Homo sapiens: one gene and its partners. The gene in region 3 interacts genetically with the main gene of each other region. Each region holds a gene or a part of one and is shown on either strand. Other genes may lie near its edges. The genes, in order: KCTD10, PSMD1, CTNNBL1, SDHC, DNTTIP2, DCTN2 and POLD1.

Region 1 (3,500 bases), on a different chromosome or scaffold from region 3:
AATAGGAGTTATAGCTGCTGCTTTACCAATGAGAGGTTTAGCCTCCTTCCATTCTTCCTGCTTTCAAGTCAGGAATCACTGAGACCCAATCACAGAATTAGCCCTGCTTCCCAGCAGCATCCAACACAGAGCAAAGCCCCACTTCTCTGAACTGTCTCTCAAATCACCCAACACAAGCCCACAGCCCTTCTCTGAGATGTCCCACAGTTCTTCCCCACCCCAATGCAACAAGGAAATAAACCCAACTTTGCTTGACTACAGGTATGCTCCTCGTGCTTTTTGGCTGCAGGGCACTGACAGCACATAACTTGTTTGAACTATTCCCTGAAACTGAAAAAGAATTGTCTAGCTTTTCCAGATTTTCTATAATGAATGGGTACTACAACTATAACTGGTAAAACACAAACGTTATTTTTGTAAATGGGACTGGGAGTAAAGGGAGGCAGCTTGCAACAGCAGAAGCAACGCGACAGTCATGGACAATATTCAATTCAAGGTTATCCAACTCTTCTGGCCAACTCTCCCCAACTCCATGGCACCCAACAGTGGCCTGGATATCACCTGCCATGTCAGGGCCCTGCAGAGTGAAACAGAGAAAGAACGGCCTCCTGGAAAGAAATGTTTTCTCAAGAAACAGTTCCTTTTTCATCAAGAAAAGTCACAAGAAAATATGTTTTCAAAAGCTCAGGCTTAGCTCACCTGGGGTCTTTGCTGCCCGATGCCAAACACAAAAGAGGTCCAGAAGAAGCAGTTACCCCTCCTTTCTAGCTGTCCTCTGAAATCAGTCCCCAGAGACCTCACACTAACAGTTATGACCAGCCACCTCCCTCAGAAAAATCCTTTGTCCATGGGATGACAGGAGTAGCTTATGGAAATAAAAGTTTCCAAAAACTGTGAAGACCTCGAAGGGGGGGAGAAAAGGCTTACGGTCATGGGTGAGGGTGTGTGTTGAGGAAATTTGCCCCAAAATGCAAATACTTTTTAAGCACCCCTTTCAGATCTAATTTTATATAATAAATGCTTGTTATGGGAAACGATCTAGCATTTTGGAAGGTGCCTATCATGAAACAGACAAAAAAGTACATAAAGTATACTTCATGTAAAGTCAAAGCACAGTAAATATGTGATATGAAGGATTTTTTTCTAATGGCATACTTGTATAGGACACTTACCATGAATGGAGTGTGTAGGCCTGGAAATTGCTCTGGGTGAGCGAGTGGTGAGTAAATGTGAAGGTCTAGGACATTACTGTACACTACTGTAGCTTTATCAACACTGCACAGGGAGGCCACACTACATTTATTTAAAATATTTTTTCTTTCCATAATAAATTAACCTTTGCTTACTGTAACTTTTTACTTTAAAAACTTTTTAATTTTTTTTTAACTTTTGGACCCTTTTGTAATAACATAGCTTAAAACACATATTGCACAGCTGTACAAAAATATTTTCTTTCTTTATATCCTTATTCTATAAGCTTTTTTCTCTTTTTTTACTTTTTAAACTTTTTTATCCAAAACTACAAAATACACACACATTAGCCTAGCCTACACAGGGTCAGGATTATCAGTATCACTGTCCTCCACATCCTGTCCCACTAGAAGGTCTTCAGGGACAGTAACACGCATGGAACTGTCATCTCCCGTAAGAATCCCTTCTTCTGGGATACCTCCAGAAGCACCTGCCTGAGGCTGTTTTACAGTTTTCACTTAAAAAAAAAAAGGCAGGTAGGAGTATATTCTAAAATAACCATTAATAGTAAATACATTAACCAGTGATATATCTATCAAGTTCATTACTATTATCGACTATTATGTACTGTACATAATTGTGTGTGCTAGACTTATACAACTGGCAGCAAAGTAGTTCTGTTTACACCAGCATCACCACGAACACGTAATATGTTGTGCTACCACTGAAATGACAGCTACACTATCACTGGGCTACAGGAATTTTTCAGTTCCATTATAATCTTAAGGGACTGTTATATACGCAGTCTGTCACTAACCAAACTGTCATTATGTGCGCATGACTGTACCTTTTTTGGCTTTCCAATACCTTTTTAAAGATAATTTGCACATAATGAAGTATACTTTAAGTGTACAGTTTGATGTGTTTTGGTCAATACTTGCACCTGTGTAGCCCCCACTCCAATCAAGCTGTCTTGGAACATTTCCATGCCTCCAGAAAGCCCCTCGGTGTCCCTTGACCACTGCATTTCTACCACATGCCTTTTACAAATTCAAACAATGCTGGAAGACAGCTATAGTTATTTCCATTTTGTGGATTTGGATGCCACAGCCCCATCAGGGTCAGTCACTCTCAAGCTGGAGTTGAGTCAGTGACGGGGCCAGTGAAGGACATGGGCAAGTGGTGGCTGGCCCAGAGACCATCACACCTAGTAGATTGAGAGCTATGATACATAAGCTGAGAAAGGCCAGCCTCACCTCCCTTCTTTAAAAAGTACAAAAAGCCCTGAAAATAGTCGCGAGGTAAAGTGTGGCTAAGGGTTTGGAGTTAGACCTGTGCATAAGGCCCCAGCCCTACCACTTAGTAGCTGTGTCCAGGGCCAAAAGCCTCACCTCCCTCACAGGGCTCCCTAGCTCTGAGTAAACACTCCAAACACTCAAATTATGATGATTTGAGAATGCTCCCGAAGTCTCAAACTATCTTCTCTTTGGAAACTGTTTCCAGCTCTAATGGCAGACGGCATGACTAAGAGATAAAGGCAGGAGCCATCCTGATCTAGAATGAGACTACAGATTAGGCAACAAAAGCTCTAAACCTTTTCAGAGCTCACCCTCTCCAAAGGTCAGTCAACCTAATAGTAGGCAAGGCCCTTGGGGGAAAAGTTTTGGCAGCATTCGTGTCCTTGAGCCCAAGTTACAGTGAACTTAGGACACGAGGCAGTGGACCAGAGACCCCCACCATAGCAAACCTCTCTAGGGAGGACTCTCCCCACTGTTGCTACTGGAATCCTGCTTTTTTTTTTTTTTTTGAGACTGAGTTTTGCTCTTATTGCCCAGGCTACAGTACAACGGCACGATCTCAGCTCACCGCAACGTCTGCCTCCCAGGTTCAAGCAATTCTCCTGCCTCACCCTCCCGAGTAGCTGGGATTACAGGCATGCACCACCACACCTGGCTAATTTTATATTGTTAGTAGAGATGGGGTTTCACCATGTTGGTCAGGCTGGTCTCAAACTCCTGACCTCAGGTGATCCTTCTGCCTCGGCATCCCAAAGTGCTCGGATTACAGGTGTGAGCCACCGCGACTGGCTAATTTTGTATTTTTAGTACAGACGGGATTTCTCCACATTGGTCAGGCTGGTCTCGAACTCCCGACCTCAAGTGATCCATCTGCCTCGGCCTCCCAAAGTGCTGAGATTACAGGCATGAACCACCGTGCCTGGCCAGGATCCTGCTTTTTGACTTGTTTCAAAGGTTTGATTTCATTACCAATGAAGCTGGGGAGGTGAAGCAGGAGACAGCAAAATTGGT
Region 2 (3,500 bases), on a different chromosome or scaffold from region 3:
TAGAATGAATTGGCCGGGCGTGGTGGCTCACACCTGTAATCCCAGCACTTTGGGAGGCCGAGGTTCGCGGATCAGCTGAGGTCCAGAACTTGAGACCGGCCTGACCAACATGGAGAAACCCTGTCACTACTAAAAATACAAAATCAGCCGGGTGTGGTGGCGCATGCCTGTAATCCCAGCTACTCGAAAGGCTGAGGCAGGAGAATCGCTTGAACCCAGGAGGCGGAGGTTGCGGTGAGCCAAGTTTGCGCCATTGCACTCCAGCCAAGAGCAACAAGAGCGAAACTCCGTCTCAAAAAAAAAAAAAAAAAAAAAAATTGTCTGAAAACGTGTTTGTGCTTGGGTGGAATTAGGAAACCTTGATTATGTCTCACAATGTCTTCAAATATGTGATGAACACTCAAAAGAAAATGGGGAAATGAAGAACGACAATTTCATGAAATTAGATTACTCCAAACTTTCCCATCTAAAGACCCCTTTCAACACTGTTAAGACACTGATATAGTAAATGATCTTTGTCAATGGACACAGCCTTGTGGTTAGTCTAACTGACCTCAAAGTCCCTATAAGCACTATGTCTTATACACAGTAGATATTCAATAGCACCATCATAGAATGAATGAATGTTAAGGCTTCTATGCCAAAAATACTGTCGAAGGAGATGGGGAGAGAGAAAAATCAGTGAGAAGCCTATATTTGTGCTACTCAAAAGTGTCACCTATGGGCCAGTGCCAGTCCACAACTATAACTGATCCACAACAAGAAGCTTACATCAGAATGTAAATCAGCTCTATCACTAAGCAAACTGCAGTTCAGCTGATGTTTTGGGGAAGACTTTCTTGATGAAAGAAGCGTTGAGCAGACAGATTCTGGAGTAAGCTTCCTATCTCCTTATGGACCTATAAAAATAGTTTGCAGACCAGCCACTTTGAATAACGTGAGTAGAGTACGAGTCAAAGAGGAAAGAAAAAGGAATTTGTGGTTATATATGCAGAAAAAGGTTGAAACGGGGAAGTTTTAATACTGTTTAGGTAAATAAGGATTAAACACAAAAGGAAGGAAAAACGTGAGATGATGTCCTTGCAAAAAACATTTGTGAAGTATTGACAAAGAAGTTTCCCTTCATAATTTTGTTGCACACGCACCTCTGGCCCTTAATCATCAATATACTCAAATGGTTCTGGGGGTTCTGGCTCTTGTTCCTCCTCCTCGATTTTTGGGCCATGTGCTGCCACAGGTTCCACCAGCTCCTCAATGTCTTCACTGGTATCCTTCAGAATGATGATGCCTCCAATAGAGAGCTGGAAACACAGGGGCGTGCAGAAGCGTACACTCATATTTCAAGCGTGCTCCACAATCTAGAGTAAATACTTGTTAAATGGTACTTTAAAACTACTTAAATGATTTGGAAGTGAAAAACTGGAGTAGAACTTTACTGGGATAAAGATAACTGTGATCTATACGAAGTATTTGCAAACTTAACCCAGTAGCTCTAGATGGTATAACATGTGATGCTGTTCTACTTGGATGATGCATCCCAATTTAAGAATAGTTATTTCCCAGCCATGGCCTTGACTACCAGCCTCAGTCTCACTGCAGGAAGAATGTTTACTGTCCAAATATAGTATCCTAATTCCTTCCTACTCAAGATATGGTCCTGGGCCAGAAGCATCATTATCATCTGGAGCTTGTTAAAAATGCAGAAAAGCTGGCCCCACCCTAGATCTGCAGAATCTGCATTCTAACAAGATCCCAGTCAATCTGATGCACACTGAAGTTTGAGAAGCAGTCTAATGCACACTGTATGATTTGTGAGATGATAATCATTTTGAACACGAGAGTGTATAAATTAAAAGCCAATTTTTTCTCCAGCAATTTCAGAATGATGGAGAGAATAACACAGATATCCCGGGTTTTTCACTTTAATCTATAAATCCACGTGATGCAAGCCGATGAAAAAATACATGGGAAACAAAAGGGAAGTAGACTGTAGCAGCAATTCTATTAAGCCCTCTCCCAAACATATTACAGAAGGTAAATTCAAACACTAAACTATTCACCCCTCTCTAGTGTGCTAATCTTATTCTATTTGCTTGCCTGTGTCAAAGGAAATGGAAAGCTGCTCTATGTAATTAAATCAGTCAACAGTGGCAGGGCACATCTGGAAAAAGCATATTTCTACCAAAGCACATTACTGGGAAGGAAAAGAAGCACAAGTACATTAGTTAAATGATTCACGTATGTATAAGCATCTCTGCAGTTCAACCTAATCCAATTTTTACTCATCAGAACTCTGCCCTGCCATGCTATAAAACTGGTGTGCTTCGTGAACTCCGAACTATTTCCCTTCTCCTGACACACACATATCTATACATTTTTCTACAACCCCTTCCCTTAAAAAGTTTGCTTTCCTTGAAGAGGATCCATTTTATGAATGGACCCTGCCCTTACTGCCAATACTCCCAGAATGGAGCATAGGGCCACTGTCCTAATCCTCCATAGCCTAAAAGTTTACTTGAACCTAATGGACCAAATGGAGATGAATCTCCTACCAAACAGAAGAAAATATCCACGTTCACATGAGGACTTTCTATTTTTTGGAAAATGTGGATCCAGGTTATGCTATTTCATGCTTAACTGGAATGAAATAATCCAACTTAATCAAAGGAAGGCCTCATCATACAAAAACAACAGTAACACACACACAAAAAAAAATCCCAAAACTAATAATCCAAATCAACACATGGAAAGGGCTGTTTATAGCTATACATGGTCTAGGTTTGTTAATGCTTTACATGTTGGTGGGAAAGTTCACACCCTCTATGCATAAGATATACGATTTTCTGTTCTCTGGGGAGGCTAATTACAACTGTAGATATAGGCAATGAAACACTTCCTCTTGCCTCATGGTGGACAGGAAGCAGGGTAGGAATGTTACTTGTTTCCAAAACTACAGCTGCCTCTTTCAAATGCAGTGTCTGAGGAAGGGTCCCATGACCTTGCCACTGAGGGTAGGGGAGTGAGTCACTGCACATACACAGAGGCAGTGTTTTCTTTTTTAAAATGAGATATATTAACATAAAATTCATTCTCTCAAAGCGTACAATTTAGTACATTCACAAACTTGTGCAGCTATTAATACTTCTGCTATCTAATTCAAAAATATCTGCATCAACCTAAAGAAACTGTGGGCCCAGTAGCAGCCACTCTCCATTCTCCCCTTCCCCTGTCCTTGGTAGCCACCAATCTAACTCGTCTCTATAGATTTGCCTTTTCTGAATGTTTCACATAAAGGGAACCAGACCATATGCAGTCTTTTACGTCTGGCTTCTTTTACTTAAAATAATGTTTTCAAGGTTCACACACACTGTAGCATATATCAGTAAGTCTTTCCTTTTTATGGTCAAATAATATTCCATTATTATCTCACATTATTCATTCATCAGTTGATAAGACATTTAAGTTGTTTCCGTTTTATGGCTATTATGAATCATGCTGAT
Region 3 (3,500 bases):
CGAGACAGGTGGATCACCTGAGGTCAGGAGTTCGAGACCAACCTGACCAACACGGAGAAACCCCGTTTCTACTAAAAATACAAAATTAGCCAGGCGTGGTGGCACATGCCTGTAATCCCGGCGACTCAGGAGGCTGAGGCAGGAGAGTCGCTTGAACCCAGGAGGCAGAGGTTGCAGTGAGCCGAGATCATGCCATTGCACTGGGCAACAAGAGCAAAACTCTGTCTCAAAAAAAAAAAAAAAAGTAAAGAACCTTGTCTTTCATCTTTGAGCCGTTTCATCTTTGAGAAATAGTTCCAAGGCTCCTTTCAAGTCTGCTGAACATCAACACCCCTGACTGAAATGCAAAGCTGGCCATGGGGATAGGCAGGGGAGGAAGCAGAGAATTATGTGATATCTGAACATCTGGCCAGAATGTTCAGTACACACACGAAACATTAATCAGGGACGGTGAACTAAGAGCTGTCTGCAAAAAGATGCTGAAAGGAAAAGAATGAATGAGTTCTTCTAAAATGATGAAGAAGAGAGTTACAGAGTCAAATTCTAGTGAAGATTCCAGAATAATGAGGCCCAAGAAAATCTTTGGCAAAAGACAGCACTGACAAGTTCAAGAATGTAGGTTTTGGACATTCTACAAAATAGCTGACCAGTACTCTTCAACATGAAAGATAACGGAAGACTAAGGAAATATGACAAACATTATGTGGGATCCTGGATAGAAACCTGGAACAGAAAAATGACCAGACATCTCTGATGGCATGTGAATTAAGTGTGCAGTTTAGTTACTAGTATTACACGAATGTTAATTCCCTAGTTTTGATCTTTACATAATGGTTATATGAGATGTTAGCTTTAGGGGAAGCTGGATGAGGAATATACGGAAACTCTACTATTTTTATAATTTTTTCTAAGTTTAAAATTCAAAATAAAAAGTTAAAAAGCAAAGAATATAGGTTTTGTAGCAAGAGTGGCAAGATATGATAATAAAGAAGAGGAAAATGATTAAGCAACTGAAGTATCAGTTGTGAACCCAATTTTCTTGAAGTCTGACATGAAAGCACAGAGATGTAGGCCAACAAGCTAACAAGATAGTAGAACAAGAGCTTTCCAGAAGGGGAAACAACCAGGGCATATACAAAGGCATGTCCCAGTTCATTCAATCATTAAACAACCATGTATTAGACATTAACTACAGTTGAGATGCTCTGCTAGGTGCTGGTCCTTGCCTCTAAGTCTACAGTTTAGTAAAAAGTGTGTGTAAGGAGGCATATAAATAGAATGTGTTTTGTAAGTGTGAGAAGAATGGGCCAGAAGAAAGAGATGATGAGAAGAACGCAGAGGGAGGAAGTGAACTTAAGGAAAAAAATCACTCATGAGATGAAAGAGAAAAACAGTCTGAAATGTTATCAATGAGAATAGCTCTGTATCTGTTCTGGTCCTCCTTATCTGTTAGAGTCACACTTCCAACAAAAAGTAACTTCAAAATGTACTAAACTGACATGCAAAAAGAGCCTATATAAAATGACTTCATGATTAGAATCATATTCTTAGGGCTACTGGGATGAGGCCTTCACAGAATGAAGGATGTATCTGAGCACCAGTTTTCAGATTTTCAGTAATGTTTCTTATACACACAACAACAACAACCAAAAAACCCATATAACAGAAAAACTCAATTACGAAATTACAATGACTACCTTATGAGGCACATAATAATACAAATGATAAACTCACACAAGAAGAAAATAATGCTTAATAAAGCAACCTTGAACTAGTATTTAATATACCTAGTAGATTAGTGGAAAAAATAAATTATGAACTAGTACTATCAAGATTGTAATAAAACTGGGGCCAGCCACAGTGGCTCACGCTTGTAATCCCAGCACTTTAGGAGACTGAGGCAGGAGGATAGCTCAAGTCCAAGAGTTCAAGACCAGCCTGGACAACACAGGGAGGCCCTGATTCTATTTTTTAAAAAAAGGTTGTAATAAAATTGGAACACACACAAACAGTATACTGTTAGCACTGTAAAACAACCAATGATTCATTCCACGTGCGTACGATGTATTACGCCACACATCTGCAGCTGAGATGAGCGTACAATGTATTACGCCACACATCTGCAGCTGAGATGAGCGTACGATGTATTACGCCACACATCTGCAGCTGAGATGAGCGTACGATGTATTACGCCACACATCTGCAGCTGAGATGAGCGTACGATGTATTACGCCACACATCTGCAGCTGAGATGACCCCCATCGTCTCCGACCACTCCCTGCTTTTTACCCATTGCTGCATTTACCCTATGCTTTGAACATTTCACTACCCTGCTTTTGCTCTTAATAATGCCAGTCAAGAATCACTGTCCCCAGTGTCCTTTACCACCCACAGAATCCCTACCCATTCATCAAGGCTAGGATTCCAGTGTCATCTCCCTTTTCTTCAATGACCAAACCAAATCCATCCCCATCGATATATCCCCTTTCCATATCCAACCGTTCCTTCCATTGTGCTCCCATAATACTTTTATTCATAGAGTTAGTTTTCTAAATGTCTGTCTTGCTCCTTACATTATGAATTCTTCTTTAATGTCCATGGTCCATGTCATAATAATTTTAGTGCATGCAATACTTGGCACAGGAGATGGCACATGGTAAATACTAATGACAGATGGGAAGGAAAAAAATGCTACATGAACAAAGCACTTCACTACAATGTTATCTCCAAGAACAAAAACCGGAAAACCACCTAAACATCCAATTGTAGAAGAACAATTTAGGGAAAATGGTCTATCACTCAAGCAAAAAGTATGCAAATATTAAAAATAACATGAAGGAGATGTAGAAACACAGAAAATATTCCTGGCAATGTTAAATTAAAAACATAGAACATAAAGTAGTATATATGCAATGGTTCTAGCCTCACAAAATACGTAAGGACTGTGGGAACAGAAAAATATTGATTGAATTAGGATAATAGTTTTCCTCTTCTCAAGCATTTTCTTTAATACTATTTCTATCACTTTATTATCATTTAAAATTTTATTTCAAAAGAAAAAACTAGGAGGGGGAAAGGAGCAAGTTTAGATATTTCTGTAAGCTCCTGCAATCCAAGAGATATGCTAAGATATTACTGATAGAGGACAAGAGGAGTGGGTGTCTGCAATATCACCAAAACCAAGGGTCCCTTAGCCTCAAATTTGCCTCAAAAAGAATACATCTCATGTCACAAGCCATACTAAATGTGAATTCTTTATTGGAAAACTTCAGAGGTAAGAACTTTTTCCAGACATCTGTGGAATCAGATTTAATGAGAGTGCCCTGGAGTTCATATATGCGCCTATGCCAGCAGAAACTTCTCAGCCAAGGCACTGCTGGGCACACTTCTTGATGAGATGTCTAAGCCTGAAGGCATCAAAAAAGTACATTTCCATATTGGGAACATAACTGGTTCCCTCTTGAAGACTTTTTCCACCACCTCCTGCCCATATTGTAATT
Region 4 (2,163 bases), on a different chromosome or scaffold from region 3:
AATGCACACTGTGAATCTCCAAAAGAGAGATATAATATGCCTGATTTCCTAGATACAGTCAATCTCAGAATCTTTTTATAGAGGGAAACTCTATTTATCAGAGGACTAGTATTCTAAAGGATACTCTGAGATCTAGAACACTATTTCTCAATTTTGTTTTGACTGTGACTCCACTAAGAAATACCTTTAAAACTGGAACCCAATAGATATGTATATATAATATAGCAAAAGTTGATAAAACAATATTTACCATTACTAAGTGGTGCCATATATATACAAGTATATATTTATATATTTTATATATAAATAAACTTCATTAAAAAACATATATTTTCTCCTTTTTGTGGAGAACGGGGTCTCATTATATTGTTCAGGCAGGTCTTGAACTCCTGGACTCAAGCTATCCTCCTGCCTCTGCTTCCCTAAAAGCTGGCATTACGGGCGTGAACTTCTGCACCCAGCCACTCCAGTGGCGCCATCTTGGCTCACAGCAACGTCAGCCTCCCAGGTTCAAGCGATTCTCTTGCCTCAGCCCTGCCAGTGGCTGGGACTACAGGCGCATGCCACCATGCCAAGCTAATTTTTGTATTTTTAGTAGAGATGGGGTTTCACCATGTTGGCCAGGATGGTCTCAAACTCTTGACCTCAAGTGATACACCCTCCTCAGCCTCCCAAAGTGCTGGGATTACAGGCATGAGCCACCACGCCCAGCCCCAGCCTATATTTTCTATTCTATTTAAATTTCTTTTTTTGTTGGTAGCATGCCACTAAATTGGTTTTCTACCAATTGAGTTAAAACCCACTTTTCTTTTTAATACTAAAAAATAGAGATAGACTCTTGTTATGTCTTGCCCAGGCTAGTATTGAACTCCTGGGCTCAAGCAATCCTCCCGCCTCAGCCTCCCAAAGTGCTGAGATTACAGGTGTGAGCCATCTCACCCAGCCCCTACCCCACCACCCACCCCCACTTTTTTTTTTTTAATTTTTTGAGACAGGGTCTCACTTTGTCACCTAGGCTGGAGTGCAGTGGCACAATCTCAGCTCACTGAGGCCTTGACCTCCCAGGTTCAAGCAATCCTCCTGCCTCAGCCTCCCAAGTAGCTGGGACTACAGGCACCCATCACCATGCCCAGCTAATTTTTTGTATTTTTGGTAGAGATGAAGTTTTGCCACGTTGCCCAGGCTAGTTTTGAACTCCTGAGCTCAAGCAATTCACCTGCCTTGGCCTCCCAAAGTGCTAGGGTTACAGACATGAGCTACCATGCCCCCAGCCCCACATTTAACAAAACACTAATTTTGACTCTCTTGTGTCTTAGGGATATTAACATATTAATATTATATTATAAGTCACTAAATGAGCCCATGGGGCAAAAGCAGTCTTCATTTTCCACACTTCCCACATACATGGCGCCTTAACACACACATACACACATACACCCACAGTCTGAATGTAAAACTGCCTAAATTAGGAGTCAGTTCAGAGAAAAGATGGAAGCCCAGAAAAAAAAAAAAAAATCAAGATGAGAAGATGCCTCCACCTCAACCCTCAAATTGCTTCTAACTAGGAGATTAGGAGTCAAGCAGATTCCACAAAGAGTTGTTTTGCTTAAATAAGGACAATGTTTTATAGAGAGTGAGTCCTACTGGGTAGCAGTAGTAGGCAGGGATATTCCCTAGAATGCCACAGACCCTATAACATCCTACTCTTTCACTCCTCACTCCCCCATTAGATCTTCTGGCAAGTCAACTATCAAGTTCAGAGGCCAAAAACTGCAGACTGTCACAGAAAACACAAAATCCTGTCCCACACTCACAGCCAGTACTTGCTAGAAGAAAAAATAAAAGCAGACTTAAGGACCCTTAGGTTCTTCACTTCCCTCAACAAAAAGATTACCATCACAGGCAAGAACCAGGGCAGAAAAGCTCTAAGTTCTGCAATTTTATAAAACCTCCCCTCTCTTACCCCCATATTGAGACAAAGACAAATATAGGGCAAGTCTCTGTCTGAGCCAAAATATGAACAGAGGAAGCTGATCAGCTGATTTTCTTTACAGAGCTTTGTTCTGTGGAATAGGAAGTCATTAATGGAAATGTCCTCCCTCTCTACTGCCTCCCCCTCAGGGAAGTAAAAAGTCATTTTAAATCAAACTGAACACTGCCCCA
Region 5 (3,500 bases), on a different chromosome or scaffold from region 3:
AACTCCTACAAGTTATTTAATTTTGTTTCATTCATACAACAAGTATTTAGTTAGTGCCTACCATGTGCCAGGGTGCTCCATATTACAGTAACATTACTAGAATACCATCCTCAACTTTCCTTCAAGCTCTCTGGATAACTAGTCGAAATGGCAGATAGAAGTAATCTATATATATATATATTTTTTTAAAAAACCTCTACTTATAGATGCACTATTGTGGCTGCAAAGATGTGAAAATCTATACATAATGTGTTTATGGTACTATATTTTACAGCCCTTAGAAATCTGTAATTATTTTCTTTGGACTCATATATAGACCAACAGATACAGTTTAATTGTGCAGTTATGTTGTATAAGCTGAAAATATATAGCCAAACATATCTAAGCATTTTAATTAAGTCACTGTACTTACTCTGCGTTTTTTCTGAAGTTGATACTTTGATTCACTATATGGTGGAACACAGTGGTTTTTTTCAAAATCAGGTGTAATGACGGCTTTCTGCAGAAGCTATAAAAACATAAAATTGGTTTTAAAATAATGTCAGAATGTTATATAAGTTTTTCAACAGTTTAAACTTCTGTAAGTTTTAAAATTTTTAGTCAGCCTGGCAAAGTGGCTCACACCTATAATCCTAGTGCTTTGAGGAGGCCAAGGGAGGAGGATCACTTGAGGCCAGGAGTTTTAGACCACCTTGGTCAACATAGCAAGACCCTGACTGTAAAAAAAAAAAAAAAAAGAAAAGAAATTAGTTGGGCATGGTGGCACACACCTGTAGTCCCAGCTACTCAGGACGCTAAGGCAGAAGGATCACTTGAGGCCAGGAGCTTGAGGCTGCAGCAAGCTATGACTGTGCCACTCACTCCAGCCTGGGTGACAGAGTGAGACCCTGTCTCCCCCCAAACCCAGCTCCCTCCCAAAAAAAAAAAGAAAAAAGAAAAAAAAGGCCAGGCACGATGGCTCATGCCTATAATCCCAACTCTTTAGGAGGCCAAGGCAGGACAATCACTTGAGGCCAGGAGTTCAAGACTAGCCTGGGTAACATAAGAAAACGCCATTTCTCCAAAATAAATAAATAAATTTGTGCAGTCAAATCTGTTTATCTTTTCCTAAATGATTTCTGTACTTTTGTTACTTGACTAGGATGATTATATTCTCCTAAAACTCTGTGTGACTAAAGGAACCTCAGGTTAATTAGTATTTTTCTCAGTACAAGAACCAAGTAAGACTGCTCTGTAGCCCTCAAAATAGTTTACAGGAATATAGTACAAGCATTAATTTGGGACTGACATTTGAAATGATCAACTCAGAAATTAACAGTCAGGCACACAATTCAGGTTCAGGCCTAGATGTTTCTGTGTGGTATAGGTAGCCGTCTAGGCTTTCCTATCACTCATAAAAGGGGGCATGATATTTACTTAACAAATGATTAAGAGTTTGCTGTGAGTCAAGTACTGTAGTACATTCAAGGACAGTGGTTCTCAACTGGGAGCATCTGGCAATGTCTGGAGACATTTTTGGTGGTGGTGAGGATAAGGAAGAATGCTACTGACATCTAGTGGGCAAAAGATAGGGATGCTGTTAAACATCCTACTATGCACGGAACATCTCACAACAAAATTATGCAGCCCAAAACATCAGTAGTGCTGAGACTGAAAAACCCTGTTTTAGGAATATAAAGAAAAGATGGTAAGTTAATATATCACATGATCAACAATGAATCAGATCTATGCTAGATGTTATGGAAACAGAGGGGTTGTGAGAAGGACTGGAGGTAAAATATTCCCCAAGGGCAACGATCAATTATTTTGCACTTGCTTGGGGAAAAGCAGGGTAAGTTCAGGCAACTACAGTAGTCTTCAGTGGCAAGAATAGAGCAGATGACAGCTGGGTGGGGTAGAGAGGTACTTTGAAGGATTCAAGAGAATACTGTCACATCTGTGTGTGTGGTGTGTTTTTTGGGGCAGGGAGGAGAGATGTGGTCTAGCTATGTTGCCCAGGTTGGTCTCAAACTCCTGGGCTTAAACAATTCTCCTGCCTCAGCCTCCCAAAGTGCTGGGATTATAGATGTGAGCTACCTTGCCCAGCCGGATTTGTGTTTTTAGACAGAGAAATCTAGAAGTGTGGAGGATGGCTTGAAGAACAAGATGAAAACAAGATCAATAAGGAAGCCACTGGAGTAGTCCAGATGAGAAGCAAAGGCCTGCACTAGCTGGTGACAGTCGCTTGAAAAGGAGGAAGCAGAGAAATATCTTCCCCTAGAGGCTTGGTGACTGACTACAAAAGGAAAAGAGAGTTTGGTTTCATTAGCCAGAAAAAAGAATACAAGAAGAGGATTCCTGGTTCAGGCAGGGAAAGGGGAATTAGTGACGTCAAGTACCTGAGGACATCTAAATGAACAAATAGGTACTTGGATTTAAAGGTCTGAAAGTGACAGTGAGAAGCATCAAGGCTAGAAAATATAGATTTAGGAGAAAACAGTGCAAGGTGTTGGCTAAAGCTAAGGGTTTGGGTAAAGTTACCTTAACAGTAATTCCTTCTGAAATTATATGTAAAATGTCTATATGCACATGTGCATTTTTTTCCGGGTGGAAGAGGCAGGCAGGCATTCACAGCTTTCAGATTCTCAACAGTCTACACTAGTTAAGAACTTAAGAACTAAAAGTATAGCAAGAAAAGGGAAAAAAACAAAACCCCTGGGATCATAATTGGTGGGTGTAAGATGAGGAACACTGACCCTGTATTGATTTATTTTTAAAGCATTATCATTCATAGATAGGATTTTATTGTAAAAAGAAATGACTGTTTTAGAGAGAAGGAAAAAACTAACACATTAGGCCAATGTGGTTTCACTGTAGGAAAATTAAGTCTTTTACCAAGGACTAATTTCTAAAAGTGATTGGTTAGTTCTGTGAAAACCTAACAGCACAATTAACTTACCTCATTTTTCTTTTTCTCCTTGATCTGTGTTAGGGTTCTCTTGTTAGACTGTAGTTTATCTGCATTAAAATTAATATACAAACCACCCAACTGCTTGATACTCAGACCAGGGTCTATGCTGCTGCTTGTCAACTTCAGACTGAAAAAGAAATCATCACTTAAAGATCAAGTAATTAAATCAAAATGGAAACATATAAGATGGCATTTTAAAAAATCACTTATTCTTCTCTTCCCTTGTATTGTCCACAATAAAGAAAAAAAAGCATCTTATTTTTATGAGGAATTCCTGAAAAAAAACTCTAAATAAATATATTTTTCATCATTTTATTTTATTTTTTGAGACAGGGTCTCACTGTTGGCCCAGGATGGAGTGCAGTAGTGACCACTGCAGCCTTGAACTCTTGGGACTCAAGTGATCCTCCTACCTCAACCTCCCTGGGTGGCTGGGACTACAGGTGCACACCCAACACCTGGCTCCATAATGTCAAATGAATGAGCCATTCCATGAAGAACCCAAGGCAGTGATTTTCTCATTCCCCAGGCTAACATTTCATATTTTTAT
Region 6 (3,500 bases), on a different chromosome or scaffold from region 3:
GTATTGTGGCACGTGCCTGTGGTCCCAGCTACTCAGGAGGCTGAGGTGGAAGGGTCACTTGAGCCTGGCAGGTGGAGGATGCAGTGAGCAGAGATCATGCCACTGCACTCCAGCCTGGGCAACAGAGTGAGACCCTGTCTCAAAAAAAGAAAAAGAGAGAGAGAGAAAAGAAAAAAAAAAAAAAAAAAAGGCCTGGGCCCACTTCTAGAGATTCTAATGAATTATTCTGGGGTAGGGCCAGATATCCAGGTGATTCTAACCTACAGCCAGGACTGAGAATCTCTGCCTGTGTGTAGGTATGTGGGGAGAGGGTGTGAGGGGGACATGGTGGGACATCATTGAGAAAGAAAAGCAGATAGAAGGAAGCTCCTTCCTTCATCTCTGCTCTGCTATTAGAGCAGGAATCAGTGTGGGTGACAGCTTTAAAAATAAGGGAAGAAGGAAGGAAAGGACAAAGTATCAACTTTGATCTTTACCTCTTCCTCAGGGAATTACTGGGCAGAGGGGTAAGAGCTATAGATCAAGGGAAAACAAAAGGACTCAATGTCCCATATGCAAGTGCCCGGGGGGAGAGACATTTGAGTCCCAAATGATTATCTCTTTAACCTGTTCTGAAATGTTACGGCCAGAACACCCACCCATCTAATAGCTGTGTGATCTCTGGCCTCTTATCAACTGGGAAGGGCTCAGGCTAAGGATAGACAACCATCTTCTCTGAAGTTCATACTCAGGAATATGCCACTTCTCCCTGTGAAAGCCCCAATCCAGGCCAATCCCACCCATCCTCTTTTGTTTAATCCTCTTAAAAAAGAGGAATGGGAGGCATAACCTACAGACCCAGGAAAAAAATTAATCATAGCTACCATTTGTTAAGCCCTTATTATGGGCGGGCACTATGCAGATGGAACCTACTTTCTTATTTACGTTCCTAAGTAGGGAAAGCGGGGAGTAGAAGAGGGTCAACACATAGACGGTGAGTCTCAGAGGTTCTGGACAGTCACAGGGACAGAGAGCATTTTCATTCCTGCTGTGGGAGAGTGTCCTGGGCCAGTTGGGCTACCTGGCGCTGGCATCCTCTGGAGCCTCTCCAAGGCTGTGGCCCGGGAGCACACTCTAGTCCTCCAGTAGCACCTACTCCAGCAGTGTCTTGAAGATCTGGGGCATGAGTTGGGGGCAGTATAATTACAGTGACTTGTGAGATAGGAAAAGGCTGGGTGTGGGACTGAATAGATGAATGAAAGATTTAGTAGAGTCTAAAGGACAGAGAAACAACTGCTCATCATAGCACACCCCGTTAAAAAGCAGATGAAAGGTCAGGCTTCTTACCAGCTCCTTGTGGTTTCCCCAGAGGTGAGAAAATCAAAAGAGTTAAAAGGAAAGGGAGTGGGGGAATGGGGATGAGGGAGGGAAAAAAAAGACAAAATTGTTATTAGCAAATTGTCACATGCACTACATGACAGTCTTCCAACACACTGCACCACAGGGCCCCAGGGGAGCCTAGCGAAATTTAGGGGCCAAGAAATTTCAGCTGGGGTCACCATATACCCCAAGAGAAAGAAGAGCATGAGACCCTTTTCCCTCTGGTGGTGAGGATGTCATGAAGCTTTGCCATTAACAGCAGCAGTTTAGGATCATCTGAAAACTAGGAGTTAGATGTTACCAGCCAGTGGCATGGAATAAGAAACTGGGGAGAGAAGGCTGAGGTGGTGGGGAAGCTATTAGAAATGGTAGAAGATGAAGCAGAAGTTAGAAATTCTTAGACTTGTAGCTGATAGAGGGTCAATAATTCTCAGGAGAGGAGTTCCCCTTCTTAGTTCATGGCCCTTGTCTTCCTATCTCTTAGTTTCTCTAGCTGTGAAAAATTAGACATTTGGATGGCAGAATCAGTCACAATGAGAGTGATCAGGTAGGAAGTCTGATATGACTTTAGGTGAGACAAAACAAAATATGTCAGGTACAGATGGTGAGTTAAAGGAATGATGAAGTACCTAAGTATAGCCCCGTTCTCATTTCCTCCTGCAAGGGAAGAGGCAGAGCTGCTCCTGGTCCCTTGTGCAGCCTGGCATGTTTGCCTCCACCTTGAGTGGCTGGTAACTCACCCTGCAGCTCCGAAGGATCTAGAGCAATTCTGCCATGATGTACTTACACAGAGGGTCCAGGGGACATCAAGATTCACAGGTACTAGCACATGTGCAGAACATGTTTCTTCAACCCTCTGTTCACAAGATTCACAGGGGTTGGAGGGTAAACAAAGGGGAAGGGTGAGAGTATTTCCAAGAGGCCTTATTTGAGTCTGGGCCACATAGATAAGGCTCCCACTTCCGGGCAAGGCTGGTTTAGAACTGCCAGAAGGGGATATCCAGTGGTATGTCCTGCCTTTCTAGGAGCTCTGCTGATGGGCAGATGGTTGAGGATGGTTGTATGCATATGAAAAACCATGGTGGGATTAAAAACAAGTGCTTCCTTTCACCAAGATTTCATCCAGATACCTCTTAATCACAACCTCTCTGTTCCCTAGACGATGCTAGGGTCCCAGCCAAGATTCCTCTTTCCACCAGGCACGGTGTCTCACATCTGTAATCCCAGCACTTTGGGAGGGCGAGGTGGGTGGATCACTTGAGGTCAGGAGTTCGAGACCAGCCTGGCCACCATGGTGAAACCCCATCTCTACTAAAAATACAAAATTAGCCAGGCATGGTGGTGGACGCCTGTAATCCCAGCTACTCGGGAGGCTGAGGCAGGAGAATCATTTGAACCCGGGAGGTGGAGGTTGCAGTTGAACCCGGCAGGCGGAGGTTGCAGTGAGCTGAGATCATGCCACTGCACTCCAGCCTGGGTGACAGAGTGAGACTGTCTCAAAAAAAAAAAAAAAATTCCTCTTTCAGCTCAGGGTAGAGGTGGCTCCAGATCCTGTGGTCGAGGCTGGGATGTCTCTGCATAGAGTGGGTGTAAGCACCCATAAGTGCAAACATGCAAACACAAAGGAGAAGTACACACACTATACCTTTCTCTGATTTGTCCCACCAAGCTAAAACCAGCTTGGGAGAAACTCAAGGAGAGAAAGAAGACAATGGGCCATAAGCTCAATTTCAAACCATGCGGATTGGGCAGAATAGGGAGGACAGAAAATCAAATAAAAGGAAAAGTGGTATATTAGTTTGCAGATAGTATATACCACCTCCAGGTCTGTCCTATGGGTGGGTTGAAGGTTGATGAGATTTTAGGCATGATTCCTGCATAACCTGGAGTAGTACTAGTCACCTTGATTGGAAGATTTCAAGTGCCCTGGCCCCGGGTGCCAGCTTACCTAGTACGTGACTCCCAGTCTCTTTCACTAAGGGACTCCCAGACCCCCCAGGGCTGTTTGGCTAAGTGGCTGTGCCTCAGAGGGCAAGATCTGAGGTTCTAAATCAGACAGGGAAAGTGGCCACTGTTACTCTCTGAGCCTATTCAGGCTGTACGCCAACACTGCAGCCAGGGTACTTCAAAACCATGATGAC
Region 7 (3,500 bases), on a different chromosome or scaffold from region 3:
TTTTTTTGAGACGGAGTTTTGCTCTGTTGCCCAGGCTGGAGCGCACTGGCGCAATCTCGGCTCACTGCAACCTCTGCCTCCTGGGTTCAAGCGATTCTCCTGCCTCAGCCTCCCGAGTAGCTGGGATTAGAGGCACCTGCCACCACTCCTGGCTAATGTTTTGTATTTTTAATAGAGACAGGGTTTCACCATGTTGGCCAGGCTGGTCTTGAACTCCTGACCTCGTGATCCGCCCGCCTCGGCCTCCTAAAGTGCTGGGGTTACAGGCGTGAGCCACCGCGCCCAGCCAATTCATTGCATTTTTATTATTCCACCTCTTGCTCCCATAAGCTTGAGAGACAGAAATAAGGAAAGAGGTCAAGAGACAGAAACAGAACAGTGACAGAGGGAAGCGGCTGAGAGAGAAAAGACAGAGACACAGGATTGGTAAGAGGCAGCCCCAGGGGAGGGCCAAGCTGTGCTCTCTTGGCCTGGCCTCTGCTTCAGGGCTAGAGCCTGATGTCCACACAGCCACCCCTTTCCACCAAGGAGGCTGGGGAGGCAGCCGGGGACTGTGAAAGGCAGAGGGGAGTTGGGAGCATGCAGTGAGCGATTCACTTTGTGCAAAGAAAGGTCTGGCTCTTGCCTGGCTCCTGGTAGTCTAAGCCCCTAGAATATCCCGCCTGATAACAGTGTCTCTGTTCCAGCCTGGGCAACATGGCGAGACCCTATCTCTACAAAAAATAACAAAAATAGGTGGCACGTGCCCGCAGTCCCAGCCACTTGGGAGGCTAACGTGGGAGGCTCACCTGAGTCCCGGAGGTTGAGGCTGCAGTGAGCCACGATTGTGCCACTGCGCTCCAGCCTGGGTGAGAGAGTGAGACTCTGTCTCAAAAAAAAAAAAAAAAAAGGTGTTTGTGTACCTGGGACTTTGAACCACACCAGGTAGTTGACACTAACATGGTTTATGGTAGGGCCCTGGGCCATGCAGTATCAGTTTGACCTCTGGGGGTTGCTGAGGGGCCTGGGGATGATGGAGTCACTAAGGCCAGTCACAGGGTGCTCCATGCCTATAGGACTGACACCCAAGAAAAACCCTGGACCCCAAAGCTTGGGTGAGAGCCTCTGGTTGGCAATGCTGCATGTGTGCAGGCACGCATCAAAACTGGGAGGAAGGAGGGCCAGCCTGGCAACTCTACTGGGAGAGCACAACTGGAAGACACGCCTGGTCCCTCCTATACCCTGCCCTGTGCACCTCTTTCTTTTGCTGAGTTTAATCTGTGTCCTTTTGCTGTATTAAATCATAACCATGAGAACCAGCTTTTCTGCTCTCTGAGTACTTCTAGTGAATCACTGAACCTAAGTGGTCTTTGGGACCCCCAGAACTGCGGGTGGGTGGGTGTGTGCAAAGGCCCCACCCACTGAGAATTCATCCAAGCCTTCCACCCAGAGCCCTGTGAAAAGTGGCGCAGTGCCCAGCCAGAGAGGGAGCTCCCCGTGGCTAGAGGTAACCAAGCAGAGCAGCACAACTACTGGCCTGGAATGGGCCAAGACTCAAGTCCCAGGGGAGAAGGCTGGACAGGAAGACCCTTCCGAGGCCCTCATATGCCAGGAGCTGGGGCACTGACCCCAGCTTGGCAATCTCGGAAACTCAGGCCCTCTGTGGTTTCAAAGAATCTGTTTTTCTGTTCAAGCAGCAGAGCTGCCGTGGGTAGGCAGACCGGGACGCTGCCGTGGGGACGGTGAATGGCTTCCCTCCCCACGTCCCTTGGCCTCTGTGTGAGCGTCGCCTATTGAGAGGGGTGAGTCCCGCCCAGCCCCATCACTCCCCGACAGTCCGCACCTCCTGCTTTATCCGGCTGCAAAGCTCGTAGCGCCACTTGTGTCCTAAACACGTTTACACAGACCTGTCAGTGTCCCCACTGGGCTGCAAGATGACAGGGACAGGAGCTCTCATCCATTTTGTTCCCCTCTGTATCCCCAGGGCACAGAGTGAGCCCTGACCACAGTGTGTGCTCAGTAGGCATTTGCTGAGTGAAGGAATGGACCAATTGCTCAAGCCACATTGGCATCCTCTCTCTAGAAGGCCAGTGAGTTGGGGTGCCCAGTCCTCTGGATACAGGTCCCCCACATGGAGCCCTGGTCTCCTACACAGGGGGCCCACCTGCCCCCAGTTGCCTTCCAGGGGCCCGAGTGCCCACCTGTGAGATCTCCAGGCACGGCAACTTGCCCACCTGGGCGCCAGTGAAGCCGTATACGGAGTTGGCGCTCACCTTCAGCGCCAGCTGCCGTCCATCCAGGACCTGGCGCCGGAGGGGGTCTGTCTCCTTGGCCAGCTCGGCCTTGGCCCTGCGAGGGAACACGGGGAAAGCACACTCAGGCGGCACCTGGGCATTGGTCAGGGCTCCTTTCTGGAAGTGAGTGCCATGTACGGTTGGGCGTACTGTGCACTGCACAGAAGCTTCTGGCCAAGGGGGCAAAAGGAAGCTGCCAGGAGGGGATGCCTTGTGCTAATTCACGCACAGCTGAGGGCAGGGTGGCTGGGCAGCCCTGGGGTGTCCCAGTGAGGGACAGGGATTGCCCAGAGGCCCCAACAGGTCTGAGCTCCAAGCAGGCGATCTCCAGGGCTCACCTCTTCCGGGCACTGAGCAGGTTCTCCAGGATCTGGGGCAGCAGCCCCTTCCGCACTGAGGTCTTCACAAACTCGTCCCCGGTGGGGGTCCTGATGAACTGATCCTCAGTCAGGCTGGGTTGGAAGATGTTGGGGTGACTGCCGGCCACCCTCCTGCTCCAGCCCACCTCTGCCCTACGGTCCTGGCCTTGGCCATGAGCACACGCAGGCCCCTCAAGCACCCCTCCACTCCCTACTATCTCTGGGCCTGTGCCTATGCCCCCCACCAGACTGAGCCCCCCAAGGGAAGGCCCAGATGGGCCTCGGGGGACACATGCTGAATTGGGCACTATACCCCAGTTTCTGTGCAGTCCCGGGCCGAAGGAGCGTGGTGTAACACAGGTTGTGGGCCATCATGATGGACGGGTACAGCGAGGAGAAGTCCAGGGTGGCGATGGGGACGTCGTAGTACCTGGGAGGGGAGCAGCCGCGGCCGGGAGTCAGGGCTAGGAGTTCCCATGCCGCCCCCGCCCTGTCTTGTGGCCTCACCCTTTAAAAAAAAAAAATCATTCATTGGCTGGGAGCAGTGCTCGCTCCTGCAATCCCAGCACATTGGGAGGCTGAGGCAGGAGGATCGCTTGAACTCAGGAGTTTCAGATCAGCCTGGGCAACATGGCAAAACCCTATCTCTACAAAAAAATTTTAAAAATTAGCCAGGTGTGGTGGTGCACGCCTGTGGTCCCAGCTACTCAGGGGCCTGAGGCAGGAGGATTGCTTGAGCCTAGGAGGTGGAGTAAGCCAAGATCATGCCACCGCACTCCACCCTGGGTGACAGAGTGAGACCCTGTGTCAAAAAAAGAAAAAGAAAAAGAAAAATAATATATATAATTAATCTACTATTTTATTTTAT

Evidence for each region.
Region 1: changes in CTNNBL1 (region 3) and KCTD10 together harm fitness more than expected from each alone (negative genetic interaction), as found in Homo sapiens cells (one large-scale study listed by BioGRID).
Region 2: changes in CTNNBL1 (region 3) and PSMD1 together harm fitness less than expected from each alone (positive genetic interaction), as found in Homo sapiens cells (one large-scale study listed by BioGRID).
Region 4: changes in CTNNBL1 (region 3) and SDHC together harm fitness more than expected from each alone (negative genetic interaction), as found in Homo sapiens cells (one large-scale study listed by BioGRID).
Region 5: changes in CTNNBL1 (region 3) and DNTTIP2 together harm fitness less than expected from each alone (positive genetic interaction), as found in Homo sapiens cells (one large-scale study listed by BioGRID).
Region 6: changes in CTNNBL1 (region 3) and DCTN2 together harm fitness less than expected from each alone (positive genetic interaction), as found in Homo sapiens cells (one large-scale study listed by BioGRID).
Region 7: changes in CTNNBL1 (region 3) and POLD1 together harm fitness less than expected from each alone (positive genetic interaction), as found in Homo sapiens cells (one large-scale study listed by BioGRID).

What each region holds. Positions count from the first base shown.
Region 1 is NC_000012.12:109,470,801-109,474,300, forward strand, and holds part of KCTD10 (BTB/POZ domain-containing adapter for CUL3-mediated RhoA degradation protein 3), read right to left. Parts: intron 1-3,500. UniProt on the Homo sapiens protein: Substrate-specific adapter of a BCR (BTB-CUL3-RBX1) E3 ubiquitin-protein ligase complex. The BCR(BACURD3) E3 ubiquitin ligase complex mediates the ubiquitination of target proteins, leading to their degradation by the proteasome.
Region 2 is NC_000002.12:231,168,367-231,171,866, reverse strand, and holds part of PSMD1 (26S proteasome non-ATPase regulatory subunit 1), read right to left. Parts: intron 1,302-3,500; coding exon 1,155-1,301; 3' UTR 1,146-1,154; intron 1-1,145. UniProt on the Homo sapiens protein: Component of the 26S proteasome, a multiprotein complex involved in the ATP-dependent degradation of ubiquitinated proteins.
Region 3 is NC_000020.11:37,700,530-37,704,029, reverse strand, and holds part of CTNNBL1 (beta-catenin-like protein 1), read right to left. Parts: intron 1-3,500. UniProt on the Homo sapiens protein: Component of the PRP19-CDC5L complex that forms an integral part of the spliceosome and is required for activating pre-mRNA splicing.
Region 4 is NC_000001.11:161,359,381-161,361,543, reverse strand, and holds part of SDHC (succinate dehydrogenase cytochrome b560 subunit, mitochondrial isoform 1 precursor), read right to left. Parts: intron 1-2,163. UniProt on the Homo sapiens protein: Membrane-anchoring subunit of succinate dehydrogenase (SDH) that is involved in complex II of the mitochondrial electron transport chain and is responsible for transferring electrons from succinate to ubiquinone (coenzyme Q).
Region 5 is NC_000001.11:93,872,707-93,876,206, forward strand, and holds part of DNTTIP2 (deoxynucleotidyltransferase terminal-interacting protein 2), read right to left. Parts: intron 3,078-3,500; coding exon 2,939-3,077; intron 509-2,938; coding exon 413-508; intron 1-412. UniProt on the Homo sapiens protein: Regulates the transcriptional activity of DNTT and ESR1. May function as a chromatin remodeling protein. Part of the small subunit (SSU) processome, first precursor of the small eukaryotic ribosomal subunit.
Region 6 is NC_000012.12:57,537,193-57,540,692, forward strand, and holds part of DCTN2 (dynactin subunit 2), read right to left. Parts: intron 1,333-3,500; coding exon of another isoform or gene 1,327-1,332; intron 1,156-1,326; exon of another isoform or gene 1,061-1,155; intron 1-1,060. UniProt on the Homo sapiens protein: Part of the dynactin complex that activates the molecular motor dynein for ultra-processive transport along microtubules. In the dynactin soulder domain, binds the ACTR1A filament and acts as a molecular ruler to determine the length.
Region 7 is NC_000019.10:50,408,347-50,411,846, reverse strand, and holds part of POLD1 (DNA polymerase delta catalytic subunit), read right to left. Parts: intron 3,141-3,500; coding exon of another isoform or gene 3,063-3,140; coding exon 2,946-3,062; intron 2,726-2,945; coding exon 2,612-2,725; intron 2,329-2,611; coding exon 2,181-2,328; intron 1,907-2,180; exon of another isoform or gene 1,823-1,906; intron 1-1,822. UniProt on the Homo sapiens protein: As the catalytic component of the trimeric (Pol-delta3 complex) and tetrameric DNA polymerase delta complexes (Pol-delta4 complex), plays a crucial role in high fidelity genome replication, including in lagging strand synthesis, and repair.